Homo sapiens: one gene and its partners. The protein of the gene in region 3 interacts with the protein of the main gene of each other region in a pairwise test. Each region holds a gene or a part of one and is shown on either strand. Other genes may lie near its edges.

Region 1 (3,500 bases), on a different chromosome or scaffold from region 3:
CTTTAGGTATGCATTAGGCATCAAAGATTAAGATTAAGAATGATGTAAGATCAGGTGTATAGTGGGGAGGTCCAGGAATAGAAAACTTTGTACATGTGTCCTGACTATATGGTACAATGCAAGGTGGTAGAGATGACAGGGGCTGGAGGTAAGGAGTGTGGTCTGGGTCTGGTTTAGGGATGTCTGGGTCTCCCTTGTAACTCATCCCACCCCTCCCTGCTAACCAGGGCAATTCTGGAGGCTCCAGTGACAGAGCCCAGGTTCTTGGAGCAGCTACAGGAGCTGGATGCCAAGGCAGCCGCAGTCAGAGAGCAGGAAGCTAGAGGCACAGCAGCCTGCGCAGATGTCAGAGGCGTGCTCGATCGGCTCCGGGTCAAGGTGGGAAGTAGGGATGGATACCCTGGAGGCTACTGGAAGCAGCCTTCCCAAGATCTTCACTATGGATTTCCTTGGCAGAGCTCACTGTAGCCTGTCTCCAGGGACTTCACCCTGCCTTTTCTGGGCAGCCCCATTCTTGTCTCTCTGGGTTTCCCTGAAAATCTTGAGAAATACCAAAGAGATATTCACCACCCTTCTGCCTATGTTTACCATTTGTTGCTTCCCCCAGTTCCTCTCATACAGCAAAAGGGTTGCAGCTTCATGCCCTGTGTTTGGTTCCCCACATCTAGGCAGTGACGAAGATCCGAGAGTTTATCCTCCAGAAGATTTATTCCTTCAGGAAACCCATGACCAACTATCAGATCCCCCAGACGGCCCTGCTGAAGTACAGGTCACAACCCCAAGGAAGTGCATGGGATGGCCTTTGAGTTTTTGAGCGGCCTAGTGTGGGCATCTGGTTTCTTGGGAGACAGGTAGACTGACATGTTCCTGACCCCCTAGGTTCTTCTATCAGTTTCTGCTGGGCAATGAACGAGCAACAGCAAAGGAGATCAGGGATGAATATGTGGAGACGCTGAGCAAGATTTACCTGTCTTACTACCGCTCTTACCTGGGGCGGCTCATGAAGGTGCAGGTAAGGTCAGGAGGGAGAGGTATTCCTGGGCACATGGACTGGGAGGAGGGGACATCCCTGGGCAAGGAATATTTTATTGTGTTGTGGGAAGAGACGGTTATCAGTTCTCTTTTCTCTTTCCTTAGTATGAGGAAGTCGCTGAGAAAGATGATCTAATGGGTGTGGAAGATACAGCAAAGAAAGATATCCTAGTACTGGGGAACCCTCATGCCAGGCCTTGAGAGTGGGAGGACTTTCGACTCCAGCCACCAATGCACTGCTCCTTACCTTTTCCTATGGGACTGAAACCTTTTAGAATGTGATGAAAGCTATAGCCTCCCTCCCCAGAAAGATGCACACATTATTTTGACACATAGTTTTGCATATGATTGCAAGGGAGGGAGAGACACCCTGAAGCCCATTCACAGATGTCAGCACGTGGGGCCCTAGTACTGGGAAAGAGGGCTGGCTAGGCCACGTCTGCCTGTCTGGGGTCCCCACAGATAGTGAGTCTTTGGGCCCAGTTATGGTCTCATTGTTTTCCCTGACTCTGACCCATCTTACGATTCTTCTCAAAGCCATCGCTCCGCAGCAGGAACACCATTTTCACCCTAGGAACCCGCGGCTCTGTCATCTCCCCCACTGAACTTGAGGCCCCCATCCTGGTGCCTCACACAGCGCAGCGCGGAGAGCAGAGGGTATGAGGAGGAACAAGCTTCAGTCACGAAAGAGGCTCTGAGCACGGTGGGGAGGGAAGGCCAGACCTCAGGGCAGAGCTTCCCAACCTGCAGGCCCTGTCTTAATCCCCTTAGACTTGGGAGTGGCCTTCTCCAATCACTCCAGCCTGCTGTGATGTGAAAAGAGCTGGGAACCATTGACTTAAGGGCATGCAGAGGGGAGAGACTGGATGAGGGGAATGACAGTCAGAGGCAGGTGTTGAGGTGGATGCAGGAGTAGCAACAGCAGGTGGGTGTAGGCCCTTTTTGTACCCCTATGTTCCCCCACCTTTTCAGTGCCCATTCAGCTTGCTCTTAGACAGCCCGGACCTAGATAGATGCGAAGGGTCTGCCTAGCTCTTATTACTCAGGTTTACTGATTTTCCAGCCATATCCATGGGAAGTCAGTGTTGGGGTCCATCCCTTCTGTTTTTCTTCTTTACTCCTCCTCTCCCAGTATCCATTTGAGGCCCTCTTCCGCAGCCAGCACTACGCCCTCCTAGACAATTCCTGCCGCGAATACCTTTTCATCTGTGAATTTTTTGTTGTGTCTGGCCCAGCTGCACACGACCTGTTCCATGCTGTCATGGGCCGTACACTCAGCATGACCCTGGTAAGACTCCTGTTTCCTGTACCATTCAACACCTTTGTCCCCAGTCTTCATCAGCAGCATAGTGGGGTCATGACTCTGGTAGAACTGAAATCAGGATCGCCTCATTCTAAAATGTCTAAGCCTTGGCTGGGCGTGGTAGTGCACACCCATAATCCCAGCACTTTGGGAGTCCAAGGCAGTAGGATTGCCTGAGCTCAGGAGTTTGAGACCAGCCTGGGCAACAACCTCATCTCTACAAAAAATGAAAAATTAGCCGGGTGTGTGTTGATGTGTGCCTGTGGTCACAGCTACTAAAGATGCTGAGGTGGAAGGATTGCTTGAGCCCAGGAGGTCAAGGCTGCAGTGAGCCATGCACTCCAGAGTGAGACCTGTCTCAAAAAAAAAAAAAAAAAAAAATAGCCAGGTGCAGTGGCTTACGCCTGTAATCCCAGCACTTTGGGAGGCTGAGGCGGGAGGATCACAAGGTCAGGAGTTTGAGACCAGCCTGACCAACATGATGAAACCCTGTCTCTACTAACAGTACAAAAATTAGCCAGGTGTGCGCGGCCTGTAATCCCAGCTACTCGGGAGGCTGAGGCAGGAGGATTGCTTGAACCTGGGAGGAGGAGATTGCAGTGAGCCAAGATTGCGCCATTGCACTCCAGCCTGGGTGACAGAGCGAGACTCCATCTCAAAAAAAAAACTTGTTACTTAGACTTGTCACAGTGTTACTCCCCCATGAAATCCTCAGTGCGTAGGGTCCCTGAGACTACCCCTACTGCTGACCCACAATCAGGCAATAGCACGTGAAAACTGAGGGTCCCCCAAATCTTGGTGCTCAAACCCCTGACCCAAGCTCAGCCCTGAACTCTGCTGTGATAGGCTTGTGATCATAGATCCTGGTGTGGCCAGGTGCAGTGGCTTATGCCTGCAATCCCAGTACTTTGGGAGACCAAGGCAGGAAGGTTGCTTGAGGCCAGGAGTTCGAGACCAGCCTGGGCAATGCGGCAAGACCTTGTCTCTACAAAAAATTTAAAAATAAACTTAACCAGGCATGGTGGTACACACCCATGGTCCCAGTTGCTTGGCAGGCTGAGGTGGGAACATCACTTGAGCCCAGATGTTTGAGGCTGCAGTGAACTATGATTGTACCATTACAATCCAGCCTAGGTGACAAAACAACCTGTCTCTAAAGCCGAAA
Region 2 (3,500 bases), on a different chromosome or scaffold from region 3:
ACTCCTCCACAAGACTTCTGGAAGATCATGGGACTGATCATGGTATTTGTTATGCTCATGTCTTCACTTTTAGACTGGGATCCCCACCCCTCTCCAAGTGAAGGGCTGTCTCTTTTCTTTTCTCTTAAACTTTCATCCTGCACAGGGAGAACTCAGAACTGGAGGCTGATTACCGACTGGCAGAGAGCACCAGTGCCAGCTCCTGTCTAATAGGTTATTAAAGCCTACTTAATATTTTATAGTACATGGAATTAATGTATGTTCTTTTCAATAATTAGTTTTTAAATCCAAACATTGAGTATTTTATACAAGATAGTCATCATATAAACATTAAAATGAGTATCAAAATAGCAGAACTAGAAGTCCTAAATCTGCTACAAACCCAAAAGGTTAATCCAAGTAACCAACAAATGGATTTGCCAAGGTAACACATGATAATTGACAGGAATCCTAAATACAATTCATAACACCTTTATCTTAATGCAGATTACACTGGCAGTTGCAGGGTTGAGGAACAAATGGAAAACAAACTTAATTTACCTATGACTACTGGTACAGCTTTCCATCTCCTCTAGGATTGCTTTTCCTAACCTCTGTTACCCAACAAAATATTTGTAAGTTTTTAAATGTTCAGTGGTTCACCTGGACAGGCAGTCATCTACACAATAAAAATGGCAATATATGTATGTAAGACATGTTATTGAATGTTAGGCTGAGAGGACCCCAAGTTCAGGTCAGAAACAAGGGACAGAGAACAGAGGCCTATTTGAAATCAAGCTTCTACTTCCCTGGGAACCACATGGATCCTAGCAACACTGAACAAAGGGCTATACACAAAGTGATCAAGGATCTGGATCGTAAACCATTTTTCTATCTCTGTGCTGTATATATTAAGACACTTCACTGTCATGAATTAGCATTGTCTGCCATGCCCATACATTATGCTCCTATCCAGGCAAATTGCAAATACTGGGATTTCATGTTTCAGGACGATTTCAGATTGTATGATGGGTTTGTTATCAGATTGTTCGGTCTCAGTAAGACGATGATCCAGAGACTGGGGATGCCGTTCATCAACCAGCGGAGTCTGACCTACGGGAAGGAAGCTGAGACAAAGCCCAAGGTCAGGCAGCCAGAGCTCTGCAGGGAGGCCAGAACCCAAGTAGGATAATGCTTACAAATGATACTTTGCCAACCCACTTAGGCTGAACCAGCATCCTAGAGTGTATTCAGGTGAATCCCACAAGGAAAAGGAAATAATGGGATGCTGGCACATTACTCAAAATCCCTCCACCACCCACACTTTAAGCATCTTATACTATCTAGTAGTCTTAGTAATTTATAGAATTTCTAAAAGAAAACTCAGCATCTGGGAGATTCATCATCAAAAGGATTATATCTGCCTATGGTCATAAAGAAGGGGAAGACAGAAAGAGAGAAACAAATAGAAACAGCCACAGACTACTTAAGCCCACAGAAAACTCTTAGCAGAGTTTTAATACATGAAAGTGGAGAAAGGAACATATTTAATATATTGAGGAGGTAAATAAAAAGTAGATTAGCTATCTGTACAAGAAGATAATTACAGCTGGAATTTCTTGTCTCAACACCACTCATCTGGTCTTCTCACTTGCTAGCATGACCCAACACACCAGTTGAGAAACACTTTTCTAGTCTCTTCTGTACACTGCTTAGTGATGAACACAATATTTTTTGAGAGACCTGAAGTACAGATGTTAGTGCAACACCATCTTGGTACCAAAATTTCATTTATCAAAATGTAAACAATTTTGAATTATCCAAAACTGTTGTATATCCAGTATCAACATGTTACATCTCATATTTTGATGATGCAATGTTCTAAGTCAAGACACCCAGCTTAATGAGTAAGGAGTGCTTCATGAACACAGAGCTTCATTCTCGCTTTTGTGCCAAAGAGAGGACAAAAACTTAATGCTAAATGGAAATGGAGCACCCCCTGGCCTCTACTAGCAGCCGAGCCCCATGGCCTAACAGCAAGGATATTACCAAGATTCATAAAGATTGAATGGCAGACACACACAAGACCAAGCAGGTATTTCCAAGAGCAGCCATTTGAGACATATTCTGTGCCCACAGCCCTGTCTTCACCCTTTTAAGGGCTCTGTGTCCCTGTCTGAAAAGACAGAGCTTGAGTTCTATGGGATAGAATGAGAAGACAACATTCTCTCCTCTTCACCAAGCCAATGAGGTTTGCTGAATGATGAAGACAGACATACTCCTTGTGTAGTTCCCTTGTCAATTATTGTGGTGTCAGCAGATTTTATGGGAGGAGGGATGAAGGAATGGACAGGCTCACTACTCAGAGCAATATTTGGATGCAATTGTGAGACTCCACTGGCACCACTTTAGGATCTGCGAGTTGAAGCAAGTTTCCCTGCTCTTAGGGAAGGGATTAACTAAATCAGTTTTATCTAAATCAATTTGCACCATTCAGATGATATGTTCATAAAGCAATCAAGTCACTCTGATTTACAGGAGTACTTCCCAGAGGTGGCCTTGCAGGGTGCAACATGCCAGACGAGAATTCTAGTAGTCATGAAAACAAATAAGAGGGACACAACCACCCTTTCATGTCCCTAGCCTCTACCCATGTCCTGCACAGCCCCTCCCTGACCTAATCCTGGAGTTGCAAGTATGGAGTTTGGCGTGGAACAAGCAGGAGGCCAAAATACTGGGCTAAATCTGGGGCCTCAGCCCAATCAGCAGAGGTCCTCTGCACATTATAGGTGCTTAATATTGTTGACTCTGCTACTAGGTGCTAATCATGCTTATATAGCCATACCCCAAATTATTTATGACACTTTTCATTAGAAGCTAACAAACTGCCCCCATATAGGCTAAAAAATGGGTGAGGTTATGTCTTCAAATTAGTCTGACTCAGATTGTTAGGTTAGAGTGCATTAGAAATGATTCAAGCCTCAACTTAAATTGATCATTATTACTCTGTATGCCTAGTTGCATGTATGTTTTCATTCAGTTGAACATGTATTGGAGAAAAACCAGATTTAGGACCTACGTACAATGATACGATTTGGCTCTGGGGGTGGGAAGCTAAAGGTTTTCAGTAAGCTAAGATTCCTGCTTACACCCAGTCAATCCACTAACTCAGTAAAAGGTAAAGGAAGTGCTTTCTTTGAAAAGTATAATGTTGGCTGGGTGTGGTGGCTCACACCTGTAATCCCAACACTTGGACTTGGCAGGTGGATCCCTTAAGCTCAGGAGTTTGAGACCAGACTGGGAAACATGGTGAATCCTGTCTCTACAAAATATTCAAAAATTAGCCGGGTGTGATGGTGTGTGCCTATAGTCCCAGCTACTAAGGAAGCTGAGATGGGAGGATTGCTTGAGCCAGAGAGGTCAAGACTGCAGCAAGCCATGATCACACCACTGCACTCCAGCCTGGGTGACAGAGCGAGACTTCGTCTCAAAGGAAAAAAAAAGTATAATGCTGAGGGTTT
Region 3 (3,500 bases):
CTTCTCCTCCCTCTTCGCCCCTCCTTCAGTTCAGCCCCAGGGCCCACTTTCTCAGGGGACCTTCCCTAACTGCTCCCTTGCTTCACCAATCCCCGGGTTAGGTCCCTTTGATATATGCTCCCATGCTTCCCCTTTTAATCCTTGTAAATAACTCGCCACATTTGTATGTATTTGTCTTTATCTGTTTTCCTCACATATCTACAAACTCCATGTCTGTGTGTTCACCATGGCACAGTGCCTGGAGCATGGCACATGCTACCGAAAAGTGAATAAAGCCTGAGCCCCTTATTTGGAGCTATACTTTTGGAAATGTGTAAATAATCATCCCCCAGGTAATTTCGGCGATTGACACTACCTCACCAGGACGAAGGAGCCATGGGGGAGCATCTCAGGGCAGTGTGCTGGTGGTGGCATGAGCCCAAGCTGGTCCTCAGGTGTCTCACTGGTTCTCTATTCCTGCACCTGTGCTGGTGCAGAGGCCCTCATGTGCATTCACTTAGATGTCAACAGGACGAGCCTTGGGGACACTGTGGGACCTCTCACTCCTGGCACCATACAGGTCCTGATTGTATAGACAGACCTAACCCTCCCCAATGGCCTGCACTAAGCGTGCAGCCTCTAGTGGGTCCACCCAAGCAGCAAATCTCCAAGCCAGGCAGATCCCTGGGCCCTGACTAAATCCCTATGGTGGGATTGGTTCCCCGAGGCAGGAGGCAGCAAGGTGGCAAGGATGTCTTTACCCTGGAGTTTATCCCCAAGGGCTGGCTCCAGAATGGACTTGGGAATCCTTCTGGTGGCCTTCTGCTTGGAGATCTTGGCTTCAGCTGTGGCTGCCAAGTCTCTCTGTCGAGCAGCTTCCTTTAGCTGCTCCTCCTTCTCCAGGAAGCTGAAGGGCTTCAAAGAAGAGAGGAGCAGTTCCTTCCTCTTCTGGATCCCTGCCTGCCTTCGGGCCTCGCTGCGCTCCATGATCTCTTGGTAGAGGGGCAGGTAGACATGTGCAGGCACAGGCTGTGCCCGGAACTGCCTGTGGCACTCGGCCTCTTCCTCACCCTGCCTCTGGGCCCGCTGCCTCTCCTGCTCAAAGGAGGCAGGTGAGCCCAGCCACTCGGCCTTCTTCCGGGCCTCGCGCAGCGTCATGCGGAATGGCCGAGGGACAGTAATGGATGATGCCCAGGAGCTGACGCTTCTGTGCTGGGAGGGAGGCCGGGAGCCTGAGGGTGGCTGGGTCTGAGGCCTGGGAATGTTGGAGGGAAGGTTGTTCAGGGAGCTGCAGCGCCTTGTGGAGCCACACCTGGGAAAAAAGCAGATCTGTGAGTGGAGGACAGGGCAGTCAGGAGGCCCTGCTCCCTCCAGACCTCCTCCCCAGTCCTCCCTTCCCACTGGTCACAGCTGGCTGCTCAGCCTAACACCACAGCCCCACAGGCCTCTATGTCCATGACCTTCCCACAGACAATCCTGGCAGCCCTAATGGAAAGTCTCTTCTCAGAATTGATCCAAGAACTGCCACTTTGCACTCTAATATTTCATATGAGAGAGAGAACAATGAGCAGAGTAGAGCTTTAGAGTCAGACAGACCTGGGTTTAAATCTTGCTTCAAACTTTGAGCAAAGTTCTGTTAAAACCTCAATTTCCTCCTATGTAGAGTGGCAAAAATTAATGTCTACTTACCAGGTTATTGGAGGAGAAAGTAAATATTAAATAAGATAAAGTAATGAGATAATGTACACTTTATCTCATTCAATATTTACTTTCTAAGGCTTGACCAAGATAAAGGTACTTTGTTGTCATTCTCAGGGAAAGTGTATTTAGGAAATGCTTCCCTGTATTTTTTTTTATTTTTTATTATTTATTTACTTATTTTTTGAGATGGAGTCTTGTACTGTTGCCCAAGCTGGGCGTGATCTTGGCTCACTGCAACCTCCACCTCCCAGATTCAAGCAATTCTCTGCCTCTCCTTCCGAGTAGCTGGGATTACAGGCACCTGCCACCATGCCCGGCTAATTTTTTTATATTTTTAGTAGAGACGGGGTTTCACCATCTTGGCCAGGCTGGTCTTGAACTCCTGACCTCATGATCCAGCCACCTCGGCTTCCCAAAGTGCTGGAATTAGAGGCGTAAACACGGTGCCCGGCCCATTTTTAAATTTTATTTTATTTTTATTTGTTGAGACAGAGTCTTGCTCTGTTGCTCAGGCTGGAGTGCAGTGGCGTGATCTCAGCTCACTGCAACCACCACCTCCTGGGCTCAAGGGATTCTCATGCGTCAGCCTCCTGAGTAGCTGGGATTACGGGCACACGCCACCATGACTGGCTAATTTTTGTATTTTTAGTAGAGATGGGGTTTCACCATGTTGGCCAGGCTGGTCTCGAATTCCTGACCTCAAGTGATCCGCCTGCCTCAGCCTCCCAAAGTGCTGGAATTACAGGTGTGAGCCCCTGCACCTGAGGAAAGGCTGCCCTTTAATTAATTCCAGTGCATCACTGGACTAAGTGTTGCCCAAAGTAATTCAGGATTCCTGGGGAGGAATCAGAACACCTGTTTGGAACCAAAAGCTGATTCTCAGCTAGAGCCTCAGTAAATGGCAACTTGCAGAAGTGCTCTTTGCTTTACAGAGGAAGATGAAGCCCAGAGACACGATGTGACCTGTGTGGAGGTGTGGAGTGAGGCAGCCGTGGAGCTGCAGTGCCTTACCTCAGAGCCTGCGGGCACTGGACCTGCACCATCCCCCTGTCCTTGTCTTGGAAGAAACTCTCCAGGTCCTCCTCATCTTCAGAGAGGTTTTCATCACTCTCTGGGTCAGACTGAAAGAGAGACTCCAACAGACACCATCTCCCTTTCTGCTTCAGTTCCTGTAAGTTCTGGTAAATGCTCCCAGTTGAGTCAGAAGTAGAATCTATCTCCTCCTCTGGGCTGAGGAACTCGTCAAGTTTGCTGGCCCTGGGCAAAACCAGCCCATCCCCGGACAGCTCCTCTCCTGCCTCTGTGTCTGCGAAGGACTCGGGGGGAAATATCTAAAATAGAATAGAAATAGGCTGTGGGTCAAACAATAATTTCAAAGGTATTCAAATCATAACTTAATTTCGCTTTGAATAAGCTTCTGTATATTAGGGACTGGGGAGAATTTGGGGTCTGCCAGATGCACTGGCTCACACCTGTAATCCCAACACTTTGGGAGGAATTTTTAAAAATAAGGTGTGTTTCTTGGTCTAAAGAAATTTCACAACTTGGTCTATGAAGTGCGCTTGGTTGAAGGGATGGAGAGGGAAGTGAAGAGCTGAAGTTGGTTCCCTATGCCATACAGTGCAGTAAGCTTTTACAGAGTACCTCACCTACACCAGGCTTTCTGACCCCTGCACTCCAGGAATCCTGCCCATGATGATGGCCACACTCTCCCTTACTTGGGTTTTAACCTACTTCTTGCTCATCTTCCTTCTCTCCCTTCCCTTATTTCTACTCCTCTGCTTTCCTCATGTTCTAGCTAATTTGCACTCTGTCAAGGA
Region 4 (3,500 bases), on a different chromosome or scaffold from region 3:
AATGTGGATCATAACACTGCCCACCTCACAGGGTGGTTGTGAAGACTGAGTGAGTTAATATGTACACATTGGTCAGGCACGATGGCTCACACCTGTAATCCCAGCACTTTGGGAGGTGTGTAGATCACCTGAGGTCAGAAGTTTGAGACCAGCCTGGCCAACATGGCGAAACCTCGTCTCTACTAAAAATATAAAAATTAGCCTGGTGTGGTGGTGGGCACCTGTAATCATAGCTACTCAGGAGGCTGAGGCAGGAGAATTGCTTGAACCCGGGGGGGCAGAGGTTGCAGTGAGCTGAGATCACGCCACTGCACTCCAGCCTGGGCAACAAGAGTGAAATTCCATCTCAAAAAAAAAAAAAGAGTCAGGGCTGGGCACAGTAGGTAGCTCATGCCTGTAATCCCAGAACTTTGGGAGGCTGAAGCGGGCAGATCACGAGGTCAGCAGACCAAGACTATCCTGGCTAATGCGGTGAAACTCCGTCTCTACTAAAAATACAAAAAATTAGCCGGGTGTGGTGGTGGGCGCCTGTAGTTTCAGCAACTTGGGAGTCTGAGGCAGGAGAATGGCGTGAACCCGGGAGGCGGAGCTTGCAGTGAGCCGAGATTGCGCCACTGCACTCCAGCCTGAGCCACAGAGCGAGACTCCGTCTCAAAAAAAAAAAAAAGAGTCAGTAGGGAGAGGCCTGTAACCCCAGTACTCTGGGAGGCCAAGGCAGGAGGATCACTTGAGCCCAGGAATTTGAGGCCAGCCTGGGCAACATAGTGAGACTTTGTTTCTATCAAAAAAAAAAAAAAAAAAGGAAATTAGCTGGGCATGGTGGCGCCTGTGGTCCCAGCTACTCAGGAAACTGAGGCAGAAGGATTGCCTGACCCCAGGAGGTCGAGGCTGCAGTGAGCTATGATTGCTTCACTTCACTCCAACATGGGCCACAGAGTGAGACCATGCTGAAAAAAAAAAAAAAAGAAAGCCAGTGGGGAAGAGACCGTGACCCACAGTCAGATATGCCTCCTCTCCACAAACACCCAGCCTCAGCCAGGTGACTCACTTCCCAAATTACTCACTGTTCTTACCACATTGAGCCACTCCTCTGCTCTACAGCCTGCCATGGCTCCCCACTACCCAAGGCTCCACACCTTCCCTTCAGCAGTCAAGGCCCAGACTCCCTCTCCCCTCATCTCCTGCTCATCCTATGACCATTCTATAAGCCGAAATCATACAATGGCTGTTTGGACAGTGTTCAGTCTCCCCGTCTTTTTTTTTTTTTTTTTTTTGGTTTTTGTTCTTTGTTGAGACAAGTTCTTGCTCTGTCACCTAGGCTGGAGTGCAGTGGTGCTATCATAGCTCACTGCGGCCTTGACCTCCTGTACTCAGGCAATCCTTCCACCTTAGCCTCCCGAGTAGCTGGGACCACAGGCACACGCCACCATGCCTGGCTAATTAAAGCAGGTTTCACCATAGAACTGATTTGCCTACATTAAAAGAAATTGTTTTTTAAATCAAAAAAACATTTTTTTTGTAGAGATGGGGGTCTCACTTTGTTGCCCGGGCTGGTCTACGAACTCCTGGGCTCAAGCCCTCCATCCTCCTTGGCCTCCCAAAATGCTGGGATTACAGATGTGAGCCACCACACCGGGCTGCTCAATGCGTTTTCAACAAAGATCAGTTCTCCAAATAACAATGAGCTGAAAACTTTTAAGACAGTCATAGCGCATCCTTTAAACCTGGTCTAGAACCCTTAACCAGAGTCATTTTGCCACCAGAAACAGAAACGGAGACAGGAGTGGGCAGGCCGGGGCAAAAGTCCACTGAGAGAAACAAGAACTAGGTTCGGGGAAAGCCCATCCTTTCTTTCTTTTTTTTTTTTTTAAGAGACAGAGTGTCAGTCTGTTGCCCAGGCCGGAGTGCAGTGGCAAGATCTCGGCTCACTGCAACCTCCGCCTCCCAGGTTCAAGTGATCCTCCTGCCTCAGCCCCCTAGTAGCTGGGATTACAGGCACGTGCCACCATGCCCGGCTAATTTTTGTATTTTTAATAGAGACAGAGTTTTGCCATGTTGGCCAGGCTGGTCTCGAACTCCTGACCTCAGGTGATCTACCTGCCTTGGCCTCCCAAAGTGCTGGGATTACAGGCATGAGCCACTGGGCCCGGCCAGCCCATCCTTTCATATGTAAAAGGACAAGGGCAGCACAGGGGACAAAACCTAAGCAAAACTAAAACTTGTTTTAAAAAAAATATTCAAAATGTAGGCAAATTAGGCTGGATTCGGTGGTTCACGTCTGTAATCCCAGCACTTTGGGAGGCTGAGGCAGGCAGATTATTCGAGCCCAGAAGTTTGAGACCAGCCTGGGCAACAGAGGAAGACCCCCCATCTCTACAAAAAAAGGTTTTTTTAGGCCGAGTGGTGGGCGCCTGTAATCCCAGCTACTCGGGAGGCTGGGGCAGGAGAATCGCTTGAACACAGGAGGCGGAGGTTGCAGTGAGCTGAAATCTCGCCACTGTACTCCAGCATGGGTGACAAGAGCAAAACTCCGTCTTGAAGAAAAAAAAAAGAAAAAAAGTTTTTTTTAATTAAAAAAAATTTCTTTTAATGTAGGCAAATCAGTTCTCTGGTGAAACGACTTGCTTCAGTAGCAGAGTATGTCGTGTATCCTAGGGCTCGAGAGTTCTGACTCTGAAACTAGACAGGATTCAAGTCCTGGCCCTCTCCCTCGCTCTGAGATCTTGCCAAGTGATTTCATCTCTCTGGGCCAGTTTTCCTCATCTGTGAAATGGGGTTTCCTCGAAGGGGATGTGTGAGTATTAAATGAGTTGGTGGGTGAATGTGAAGATGGAAAGTGCTTAGAACAGTGCCTGGCACACGAACGACTCCGTCATCTGATGGGGGTGCCTTCCTGCTCCGCTCCCATGGAATTCCCCAGTTCCCGGCTCAGGCTTCCCGCTGCTCATTTTTCCAGGGTGGACTTAGGACCTTAGTTCAACCTGAACTTAGGGAGGGGAGGCAAAAATTTTCCAAAAGCAGAGCCCGCCCCACCCGCGGCTCACGTCATCTGTGAAGATGGCCAGCTTCCCGCTCTCCAGCATGTCTTCCAGTTCTTCGTTGGTGGTGGTCCTTCCAGCTGCGGGAAGAAAGGACTCCCTGCTCGGGGGCTGGGACAGCCTGGGGGCCTGAGGTGGGGTGATGGGGCGGGGACCTGGGGCCCACCCTCCCACGCCGCCTTAAGCCAGGGGCCCCCTCCAGAGAGGAAATGCCTGGAAGGGGGCTTGGGCAGCCTCAAGGAGTTCGGGGTCCTGGGGTGGGGGGCACACGCACTGATCTCCAGTTGCCGCTGGATCCGGTCCTTGCAGCGGTCCCGGTACTTGGACTGGGTCGCGTTATATTCGGTCATTACCTCCACGAACTTCCGGGACAGTGTGGAGTGCTACGGTGGGGGTGGGGGGACAGACGGATCAGGGAGGTAGTCAGGGATCAGGGAGGGAGTCAGGGAGCAGAGACCGAGG
Region 5 (3,500 bases), on a different chromosome or scaffold from region 3:
TGTGACTGCAGTTTGAAGGTTTGGTTGTCCTGTTTGTGACACTGTTGTTGCGATTCCTGTGCGAGTGGGTATAAGGCTCCAGGACTTGGCCGGCTGCAGTGGCTCATGCCTGTAATCCCAGCACTTTGGGAGGCCGAGGCGGGAGGATCACTTGAAGTCAGGAGTTCGAGGCCAGCCTGGCCAACATGGTGAAACCCCGTCTCTACTGAACAAAAATTAGCCCGGTGTGGTCGTGGGCACCTGTAGTCCCAGCTACCCGGGAGGCTGAGGCAGGGGAATAGCTTGAACCCAGGAGGCAGAGCTTGCAGTGAGCCGAGATCGTGCCACTGCACTCCATTCCGGTCTGGGTGACAAAACAAGACTCCATCTCAAAAAAAAAAAAAAATGTCTCCGGGACTGTGTCTGGGTGGGTCTGGCTGTGGCGTGGTCGTCATAGGAGTGTATCTGAGGTGGTGTGGAGTGGGTGTGCGTGTGCTGTGAAGATGTCATTGCCAGGTGTGTTCACAGTAGGATTGCCTGAGTGTGGCTCTCATGCGACTTCTCAAGGCTTTGCCCCTGTACTCTGTATGGAGCTGTGGCAAGTCGGGATCCACACGGCTGTGCTGTGTGTGTTTTCCGTCTGGTGTCCTAAGTGGATAAAACTGTAGTGAGGCTGCGTCTGAGATGGTGCCACCTTACTGAGTTGCTTTGCTGGGTTTGATTCTTTTTTTTTTTTTTTGAGATGGAGTCTTGCTCTGTCGCCCAGGCTGGAGTGCAGTGGTGCGATCCTGGCTGACTGCAAGCTCCACCTCCCGGGTTCATGCCATTCTCCTGCCTCAGCCTCCTGAGTAGCTGGGACTACAGGCACCCGCCACCACACCCAGCTAATTTTTTTTTTTTTTGTATTTTTAGTAGAGACGGGGTTTCACCGTGTTAGCCAGAATGGTCTTGATCTCCTGACCTCATGATCCACCCACCTCAGCCTCCCAAAGTGCTGGGATTACAGGTGAGAGCCACCGCACCCGGCCTGGGTTTGATTCTTTGTGGCCGCATCTGAGCCTGTGAGTCTATTTCCAAGTCTGCGTAGATGAGTCTGGGGCCATGTGGCTGTGAGTGGTGTGTGCGTGTGATCTCGGCTGCAGCCCGACTGTGATGTGGCCAGGGTCACGTGTGTGCAAGAGGGCACCGTGGTCAGTCCGGGCCCAAGTGTGGTTATATCTGAGTTTGCCGGGCAGTACCTGGGGCTGTTTGGCTCTATGTCCATCTGTGTGGCTGGAGCGGGTGTGTGTATGCAGTGGACACATACTCAATTGAGAACGGCGTGCGGAACCCGGCTGTGTGTTCTATGCTGCTGTCGTATGGCTGGGCTGGGGGGCGTGTGTGAGTACCCGGTGGACGCTACTGTCTGGCTGTGAGCAGAAATGGCTGTTGCTGAGTTGGTGTGGCTGTATGTGGACCTGTGTGGGTGTAGCTGAATCTGTGGGTGGCATCTGCAGCCGCTGGTGTGCGTGTGTCTGTGCACTGTTGCCCAGCCGCATCCGAGTCTGCGTAGCTGTTGTGTAGTGGGTGTGTGGCTGTGTGCATATGCGTGCCCTGTGATCAGGCTGACTGTGGCTTCGTCTGAGGCTGTGTAGTGCACATGCGCCCTCATGCGGTGTCCAGGCACAGCTGTGGCTGCAGGACGATGCCTGGTGCCCGTCCCGGGCCCACCTGGTCTGGGAGGCTGGGGCAGGAGGCTGGGTAGTCCTCGAAGTCCTCCCTGCAGCCGCCGTCCCGATCCTCGATGACCAGGTCGATGGGCATCTTTCCCTTGAGGCAGGTGATGTAGCGGTGACAGAAGTTGTCGCACAGGTCGTGGACCTGGGGGGGCACCGGGGTACTGGGGGGGGCCACCCACGGGGGCAGGGCGGGGGTGCTCAGGGACGGGGGCGGCATTCTGCTTCAACTCCGGTGGGGAGAGAGCTGGAAGGTGGGGGGCAGAGGCGACGAGAGGGGGTGGGATGACAGGGGCAAGTGAGGGTGTGGGGAGGTGAGACGCGCTCACCTTCTCCAGCTCCAGCAGGTGGAACCGCAGCACCTGGATGGCCTGGATCATCTGAAAACGTGGGCGGGAGGTGGGGGGAGACAGAGGGAATTGGGGGAGGGAGCAGGGAGGAAGAAGGAAGAGGAAGAGAAGGAGGAAGAGGAGACACAGAGAAACAGAAAGAGTGAGACAAAATGACAGGGACAGGGAGATGCAGCAAAGAGAGACAAAGACACCAGGTGCAAGGGGGAAAGAGAGAACAGAGATGCAGCCCAGAATTAAGGAAAGAGCAGATGTTAGATTGAGAGAAGCAAGAGACGAAAAAGGACCCATCACAAGCGGGGAGAGCTAAGGTGAGCCATGCTGACTGGCATTCCCATCCTCTGCCTGTTGGCCCCCAGCTCCAGGCCCCACCCACCTGCAAGCTACATTTCCCAGAACACTTGCCAAAGGGTTTGGCCAATAGGAAGCCCTGGCAAGAGCTTGGGGAGCAAAGGATGGGAGAAGCTGGGTATTCCTCCCTCCTTTCTTCTCTCTCTCTCTCTTTTTTTTTTTTTTTTTTGATATGGAGTCTTGCTCTGTTGCCCAGGCTGGAATGCAGTGGTGTGATCTTGGCTCACTGCAACCTCTGCCTCCCAGGTTCAAGCGATTCTCCTGCCTCAGCCTCCTGAGTAGCTGGGACTACAGGCGTGCACCACTGTGCCCAGCTAATTTTTGTATTTTTAGTAGAGACAGGGTTTCATCATTTGGTCAGGCTGGTCTCGAACTCCTGACCTCAGGTGATCTGCTTGCCTCAGCCTCCCAAAGTGCTGGGATTACAAGCATGAGCCACCGCACCCGGCCCTCTTTTTCTTTCTTTCTTTCTCTTTCTCTAGCTCTCTATGAGAGACAGGGTCTTGCCCTGTTGCCTGGGCTGGTATGCAGTGGAGCTGATCAAGGGTCACTACAGCCTCGACCTCTTGGGGCTCAAGCGATCCTCCCGCCTCAGCCTCCAAAGTAGCTGAGACCACAGGTGCATGCCACCACACCCCGCTAATTAAATGTTTTTGTAGAGGTGGGGTCTCGCTACGTTGCCCAGGCTGGTCTCGATCCCTGGCCTCAAGCTATCTCCTGGCCTTGGCCTCCCAAAGTGCTGGCATTACAGGCGTGAGCTGCCGCACCCAGCCTCCTCTCCTTGGGCAGCAGTCCCTGCGCTCACTTTGGCATAGGTGCTGATCTTCTGACGGATGGAACATCAGACACTTTTTGAGCCCTATTCTGTGCCAGGTGCTGTTCCACGCACTTGAATCGCATTCACTCATTAAACCCCCACAGCAGCCCTCCAAGACAGACATTACTACCAGCCACACTTCACAGACGGGACACCAAGGCACGGAGATGCAGAGTGACTTGCCCTGGGTCACAGAGCTGGTGAGTGGCAGAGCTGGGATTTGAACTCGGGCCATGGGTCCCGTTCTCAGACTCTAGGCTGTACCACACGGCACGTGGGCAACAATCA
Region 6 (3,500 bases), on a different chromosome or scaffold from region 3:
CGCCACGCCTGGCTAATTTTTTGTATTTTTAGTAGAGACGGGGTTTCACTGTGTTAGCCAGGATGGTCTCGATCTCCTGACCTCGTGATCTGCCCGCCTCGGCCTCCCGAAGTGCTGGGATTACAAGCATGAGCCACCGCACCCAGCCTATCTTCTGAAAGTTTTATAGTTTTAGTTCTTATATTTAGGTATTTGATTCATTTTGAGTTAATTTTTGTGTATAATGTGAGGTAGGGGTTCAGCTTCATTATTTTGCATATATGTATCTACTTGCCCCAGCATCATTTGTTGAAAAACTTTTTTTTTTTTCCTCTGTCGTCCAGGTTGGAATACAGTGGCGTGATCTCGGTTCACTGCAACCTCTGCCTCCTGGGTTCAAACCATTCTCCTGCCTCAGCCTCCCAAGAAGCTGGGATTACAGGCACCCGCCACCACGCCCAGCTAATTTTTTTTTATTTTTAGTAGAGACGAGGTTTCACTATGTTGGCCAGGCTGGTCTCGAACTCCTGACCTCGTGATCTGCCCGCCTCGACCTTCCAAAGTGCTGGGATTACAAGCATGAGCCACCGTGCCTGGCCGAAAAACTATTCTTTGACATCAAATTATTTTTGTACCCTTGCCAAAAATCAATTGACCATATATATGAGGTTTTATTTCTGGACTCTATTCTATCCCGTTGGTCTCTGTATCTATCTTTACACTAGTACCACATTGTTTTGATCACTGTAGCTTTGTATTAAGTTTTGAAATTGTGAGTTCTCTCACGTTGTTATTCCCTTTCAATATTGTTTTAGCTCTTCTAGGCCCTTTGCAATTCCATATGAATTTGAAAATCACCTTTTCCATTTCTGCTAAAAAGGCTTTGGAATTTTGGTAGGGATTGCATTGAATTTCAAGTTAATTATCTTTTAAAGAGATTTAAATAAGAAAAATAAGTACTTTATATTTGCCTATTTAATTATCATTTCTTCCATGTAGATAAAGATTTCCATATGGTATTATTTTTCTTCTGCCTGAAGGATTTTATTTAGCATATCTTTAAATACCAATGCATATCTGCTGTTGATAAATTCTTTCAGCTTTTGTATCTCTAAAGTATTTCACCTCTATTTGTGAACAGTTTTCAGTGAGTATAGCATTCTAGTTAAGTTTTTTTGTTTTGTTGTTTAAAAGATGTTGTTCCACTATCTCCTGGCTTGTTAGAGAAATCAGCTGTCATTTATCTTTGCTCCTCTTGAGTCATGTATCCTTTTTCTTCTGGCTGATTTAAATATTTTTATTATATAATTGGTTTTAAACAATTTTATATTATGCCTTGGTGTAGTTTGCTTCATATTTCTTGTGCTTGGTGTTGACAAGCTGCTGATATCTGTGGGTTTATAATTTTCATCAAATTTGGAAAATTTTCAGCTATGATTTATTTCTTCAATTACTTTTTCTATTTTCCCCTTTTTCTCCTTTGGGTACTCCAATTACTCCTTACATAAGGCTTCTTGAAATTGTGTCATACTTCATACTTCACCAATGCTCTGTTTGAGTCTTGCTTTTGTCTTTTAGCCTTTTTTTCTCTGTGTTTCATTTTGGATAGTTTGCTGTGGTTTTTCAAGTTGACTGATCTTTTCTTCTGCATTGTTTTATCTGCTGTGAATCCCATCCACTGTACTTTTCGTCTCTAGAAGTTCTATCTGGATCTTTTTCTGTCTTCCTCATTTGTGCGCCTTTGCCTGCTCAGTGGTAAGTGACGGGATGCCAGCCAGTGGACCTCACCTGTTGGGAGATGGATGTTTTTGTATTCCTTCATGTGTTCTTGAGCTTTGTTCTGGGATGTAGTTAAGTGACTTGGAATCAGATTGATCCTTTCAGGTTTTGTCTTTATGCTTTGCTCTGTGGTATCAGAGCAGATTTAATCCAGACTAATTTTTTCAGGCCCTGGGAGTGCTCCCCAGCTGCCTGTGCATCAGGAGGGCTCTCCTCTGCTGTTGGGAGCAGGTACTGTTTTTGGCTGGTATAAATGGTGGGGATTGCTTTCTCTGCCCCCTCAGTGGTCCTTCAGTGACTTCTTCAGCTCTGTGCTCCCTGGTCCTCAGTGGAGATTCTGGCCCTGTGTGCAGGTCTGCCTAGCTTGGCTGCCCTGCTGCCATCTTCCGCCATCTTCCAGTCCCTCCTTGACAGGGTCTGCCACGCCTTGCCTCAGTCTCCCATTTTTCCATGGCTGGGAAGTTCTTTTGGTGGAGGGGGCTCCTGGAACTCCCCTCCTCCTGTCTCTCACTATCTAGTGCCCATGATGTGAAAACCACTGCTTATTATTTATTTATATTCTATCATTGCCTGGTTTTTTTCTTTTTCTTTTTTTTTTTTAAGTTTTCACACAGAAGGTAGTTCTAATTTCTGCAACAATCTCATCTTGGCTGTACGCGGAAGTCTGTATCTCAGTGTGTTTGAAAAGCTGCCCAGGAGTGTTTTGGGCCCCAGGCTGGGAGCTTAAGCAGAGGAAAAGATCCAGGGCTCAGGCCAGGAGGCTAGGACTTGAATGTCGTGTCATGGCATTTAGCTGTCATACCTGGAGGAAGCTTCTGAGGTGATGTCTGCATCCCCAGCTCCAGGCTCGTGGGTGTGTTCTGAGCAGCCATGTGTGCTGGACCCTTCATTTGGGTCCCTCCTGCTTGTCAGGAGGCCCAGATGGTCTGGCGCTGCCCATGCCGCCTGCAGCCGGCGGGCCCTTCACCCAATGAGGGACTTGGGGCCTGGCTGCCACTTGGGTGGGGAGCCTGCAGCTGGGGCCAATTCCATGTCCGGTTTCCCTTCTTGTGGCCCGGGGTGGCTGGCCAGGGTGGATGAGGTGCTGTGTAGACATTATGATTTGGACCTTCCTTGGGACTAGGATAAGGAAGAACAGAGCAGAAATCACAGAGCTGACCCGATTGCCTTGAAGAAAAGCGGACATCTTCCACGTAGTGGGTGTTGTGTTGATGGGTGGGGGCAGGTGAGCAAGACCCAGCCTCCTCAGGAGTGTGGGTGCCATAGACATCTGTGCATCCGCAGCAGGAGTGTCCATGTCAATCCCGAGTCCCCCCGTGCAGTCCCATTGCCAGCACCAGTCTTCCTGCTGGGCTGTGTTGTCCTGTTAGCCTTGTTTAGGGGTGTCCCCCGCAACACCACGAGACACACACACACAACACATACATCACAGCACATGTCACCACACCTGCCATAGCACATGTGTGCTCTTCCAGGCAGGATCCTGTGATCCTCACAGTGCTGTAAGATCAATCAGTCTGTCTTCCCCTTGAGTCCCCTGTTGGTCCCATGAGAGTCTATACTCAGACTAGACCCTGGTTTCTTTTACCAGTCTCCTGTTGGGACGAAATGAGTTACTCTTTGTTTTGATTTCTTGAAATTAGAAACTGTCCTGCTCAGTAACATCCTTATTCATGGTTTTTTACATTTTCCCTATTTTCTTGGACTGAATTCTTAGATTTAATATTAAATAGTAAATGAGT
Region 7 (3,500 bases), about 39 Mb from region 3:
CTCTATCACCCAGGCTGGAGTGCAGTGACCCTACCATGAATAGCTTTTCTTAAGGTCTATTTTGTCTATACGTCCCTTCATAGCCATTTTCAGAGTTTTGGCACAAGGAAAAAATAATCAAGTGAAATTCCTTTTTTGTTTGTTTGTTTGAGACAGAGCCTTGCTCTGTCACCCAGGCTGGAGTGCAGTGGCGCGATCTGGGCTCACTACAACCTCCACCTCCTGGGTTCAAGTGATTCTCCTGCCTCAGCCTCCTGAGTAGCTAGGATTACCGGCGCGCGCCACCACGCCTGGCTAATTTTTGTATTTTGAGTAGAGACAGGGTTTCACCATGTTGGTCAGGCTGGTCTCGAACTCCTGACCTCATGATCCACCACCCACCTTGGCCTCCCAAAGTGTTGGGATTACAGGCATGAGCCACCATGCCTGGCCTCAAGTGAAATTCTTTAGGTTTTCCATAATCTATTTTTCGGTTTAGCCTTGAGCAAAATTTTAAAACTTTATAACAAAGTGTATACCTGATAACATAATCCAATAGAATACTTACTACTAATATCTATAATAAAAATCAGAAAGAAAAAGCCCACAGTTTAACAACTTTGTGTTTACATACCCACTTAAATCTAAACTTGGGATTTTATTGGGCTCAAAATGTTTTATAATAGTGATAAGATCAATTACAATAAAATAATATATAAAATTTAAAATATAATTCTCTATTTTTAAAACATAAAATTCTGGTCCTATTTTTAAAACTACTTTTTTTTCTGGGGGTGGGGAGGACAGGGTCTAACTCTGTTACCCAGGCTGGAGTGCAGTGACACAATCACGGCTCACTGCTGCCTCGATCTCCTGGGCTCAAGTAATCCTCCTGCTTCAGCCTCCTGAGAAGCTAGGACTACAGGCATGCATCACCATGTCCAGCTATTTTTTAAAAAATTTCTTTTAGAGATGGGATCTTGCTATGTTGCCCTGGCTGGTCTCAAATTCCTGGACTCAAGTGATCCTCCCGCCTCAGCCTCCCAAAGTGTTGGGATTACAGGTATGAGCCACCCTGCCTTGCCAAAAATTATATTTCATTTTTAAACTCTGCAGGACATTTGATTAGACACTACTTACCCTATAATAAAACCGGGGAATGGTCTTATAGAATTCATTTGTGTTTTTTCTACCTCCTTTCCATTCGGAGTAATATTTTGTAAATAAATCCATTTCTTCATCTTTTAATTCTTGTTCACTTTTTTTTTCTGGTAACAAAACAGATTAAGGGGAGCACTTTTAAAATCAAGCAGTACTTTTACTCAGGTCATCCTATATATTATATTAATAGTTTAATTAAAATAGTTGCAGTGCCAAAAAGGCCTTCACAATTGTGCTTAGACACTGAGCATATTAACTTTTCTGAAATACCAAGAATCACTACCCTCTACTGAAGCAGCCTCCTCTACATCTTCAACCATTTCTCATGCTCCCTCTACTTCTGTTTATCGCTAAAGCTAGTCTCTTCCTCAAATTACCTCTCCTACAGAACTCTGTAGAGTGCTCCTAATTCATTCAATGAAAAGAATTTACTGAGCACCTACTATGTACAGAGAACGCTGTAGTAGACACGGAATGAGGGGTGAGCAAGACAGCCCCAGCCCCTGACCTCATGGAGTTTCAGCCTCATAATCACTGTTTCTCTACCTAATGTAGAGAAAACAAACAAAAAAACTCATCCTCTGTCTGAAGCTCAAAACTCAGGGCTCTATTACCCTGCAACTCGCCTGCTATTGGCACGTGGCTGTCTCATTCAGCCAATTCCTCCCCACTTATTTGTGGACTATGGTGACTGGTACACAGTGTTCTTCACAAGGTCCTGCAATCATTTAGGATGAATAAACATTTATGTGGGTGACCATGGGTCCTGCAACTCCAAAGACTTTCACCTCTAGTTCATTCTGCCATTTGGTTCTATGACAAGATCACAGATTTTACTTGATCCCTTTCTGAAATCTTAAGCTCAAATATACTCTCAGATCATCCTTTCTGGTAATTCAAAACCTCACTGCCATACCATTTCCACTTCAGCCTCACTGAGCTCTTGAATTCTGTGATCTATTTTCTCAAAAGTTATTTTACTCTTTCTGGTCTCATTTCCTTCCCAACAAGCCTGTAATTGTTTCCTTGAATTCCTTTTATGACTGCATTTCTGCTGCATCTGTTAATTTTTTTTTTTTTGGAGATGGAGCTTCACTCTTGTTGCCCAGGCTGGGGCGCAATGGTACGATCTCGGGTCACGGCAACCTCCGCCTCCCAGGTTCAAGGGATTCTCCTGCCTCAGCCTCCTGAGTGGCTGGGATTACGGGCATGTGCCACCACGCCTGGCTAATTTTGTATTTTTAGTAGAGATGGGGCTTCTCCATGTTGGTCAGGCTGGTCTTGAACTCCTGACCTCAGGTGATCTGCCCACCTCGGCCTCCCAAAGTGCTGGGATTACAGGCATGAGCCACCATGCCTGGCCTATTATGTTAATTTTTAACCTTAGACCAAACCTATAAGTTAATTTCTTTACTATGGCTCAGTGCTGTTGTAGAAAACTGCAAAATTTTTCAAGCAAAGTCAAGACTGACAACTGACCACTGAAGTTAACAATATAGCAGTCACTGATGATTCTTGACAAGCAGGAATTCGAGACGAGTACAGATTTAACCAACAACTGTTTTAACAAATATTGCTATAAGGGGAACAGAAAAATGAGGAATGGCTAGAGGTGGAAATTAAGTCAAGAAAGTTTAAGATGGGAGAAATACCAGCATGTTTATATGCTGATGGGAATGATTAAAGAAAAACTGATGATACAGGAGAAGGGACAACTGCAAGAGTACATCCTTCAGCAGGCAAAAATGGAATCTACTACAAAGGATAGGATCTAGTACACTGATGAAGGAACCAGACTTACGCAGGTGCTGTACAACCTATATAATTTACTTATTATTTTATTATTTCTCTCCACACTAAAGTGTAAGTTCTACAAAGACAGAGATTTTTTTGTGTTCTGCTATAAGCTACAACGGTACTTGGCACAAAACAGGCATGCAATAAATATCTGCTAAAAGAATGCAGTGGGTTTAAGAGTTAAGGGGTCAAGAAAGCACACAAAGTACAAGTACAGGTACCTTCCTTTTTTTTTTTTTTTTTTCCGAGACTGAGTCTCACTGTCACCCAGGCTGGAGGGCAGTGGCGCGATCTTGGCTCACTGCAAACTTCACCTCCTGGGTTGAAGTGATTCTCCTGCCTCAGCCTCCTGAGTAGCTGGGATTACAGACACTTGCCACAATGCCCGGCTAAATTTTGTATTTTTAGTAGAGAGAGCGTTTCACCACGTTGGCCAGGCTGGTCTGTCTCCTGACCTCAGGTGATCCACCCACTTCAGCCTCCCAAAGTGCTGGGATTACAGGCATGAGCCACTGCGCCCAGCCAAGTACAGGTAACTTCTTTGAGAAGTTTTCCTATGAAGA

Evidence for each region.
Region 1: the proteins of FAM161B (region 3) and VPS52 interact in binary tests that used the Homo sapiens proteins (3 or more experiments, as listed by UniProt).
Region 2: the proteins of FAM161B (region 3) and MID2 interact in binary tests that used the Homo sapiens proteins (3 or more experiments, as listed by UniProt).
Region 4: the proteins of FAM161B (region 3) and STX1B interact in binary tests that used the Homo sapiens proteins (3 or more experiments, as listed by UniProt).
Region 5: the proteins of FAM161B (region 3) and MEIS3 interact in binary tests that used the Homo sapiens proteins (3 or more experiments, as listed by UniProt).
Region 6: the proteins of FAM161B (region 3) and BICD2 interact in binary tests that used the Homo sapiens proteins (3 or more experiments, as listed by UniProt).
Region 7: the proteins of FAM161B (region 3) and PPP2R3C interact in binary tests that used the Homo sapiens proteins (3 or more experiments, as listed by UniProt).

Annotation. Positions count from the first base shown.
Region 1 is NC_000006.12:33,265,377-33,268,876, reverse strand, and holds part of VPS52 (vacuolar protein sorting-associated protein 52 homolog), read left to right. Parts: intron 1-227; coding exon 228-378; intron 379-668; coding exon 669-769; intron 770-879; coding exon 880-1,012; intron 1,013-1,137; coding exon 1,138-1,195; intron 1,196-1,555; coding exon 1,556-1,689; intron 1,690-1,803; coding exon of another isoform or gene 1,804-1,869; exon of another isoform or gene 1,870-2,145; intron 2,146-2,164; coding exon 2,165-2,320; intron 2,321-3,500. UniProt on the Homo sapiens protein: Acts as a component of the GARP complex that is involved in retrograde transport from early and late endosomes to the trans-Golgi network (TGN).
Region 2 is NC_000023.11:107,828,866-107,832,365, reverse strand, and holds part of MID2 (probable E3 ubiquitin-protein ligase MID2), read right to left. Parts: intron 1-3,500. UniProt on the Homo sapiens protein: E3 ubiquitin ligase that plays a role in microtubule stabilization. Mediates the 'Lys-48'-linked polyubiquitination of LRRK2 to drive its localization to microtubules and its proteasomal degradation in neurons.
Region 3 is NC_000014.9:73,943,595-73,947,094, forward strand, and holds part of FAM161B (protein FAM161B), read right to left. Parts: intron 3,012-3,500; coding exon 2,692-3,011; intron 1,292-2,691; coding exon 741-1,291; intron 1-740.
Region 4 is NC_000016.10:30,993,639-30,997,138, forward strand, and holds part of STX1B (syntaxin-1B), read right to left. Parts: intron 3,422-3,500; coding exon 3,313-3,421; intron 3,119-3,312; coding exon 3,045-3,118; intron 1-3,044. UniProt on the Homo sapiens protein: Potentially involved in docking of synaptic vesicles at presynaptic active zones. May mediate Ca(2+)-regulation of exocytosis acrosomal reaction in sperm.
Region 5 is NC_000019.10:47,413,028-47,416,527, forward strand, and holds part of MEIS3 (homeobox protein Meis3), read right to left. Parts: intron 2,075-3,500; coding exon 2,024-2,074; intron 1,840-2,023; coding exon 1,690-1,839; intron 1-1,689. UniProt on the Homo sapiens protein: Transcriptional regulator which directly modulates PDPK1 expression, thus promoting survival of pancreatic beta-cells. Also regulates expression of NDFIP1, BNIP3, and CCNG1.
Region 6 is NC_000009.12:92,730,334-92,733,833, reverse strand, and holds part of BICD2 (protein bicaudal D homolog 2), read left to right. Parts: intron 1-3,500. UniProt on the Homo sapiens protein: Acts as an adapter protein linking the dynein motor complex to various cargos and converts dynein from a non-processive to a highly processive motor in the presence of dynactin.
Region 7 is NC_000014.9:35,115,491-35,118,990, forward strand, and holds part of PPP2R3C (serine/threonine-protein phosphatase 2A regulatory subunit B'' subunit gamma), read right to left. Parts: intron 1,248-3,500; coding exon 1,120-1,247; intron 1-1,119. UniProt on the Homo sapiens protein: May regulate MCM3AP phosphorylation through phosphatase recruitment. May act as a negative regulator of ABCB1 expression and function through the dephosphorylation of ABCB1 by TFPI2/PPP2R3C complex.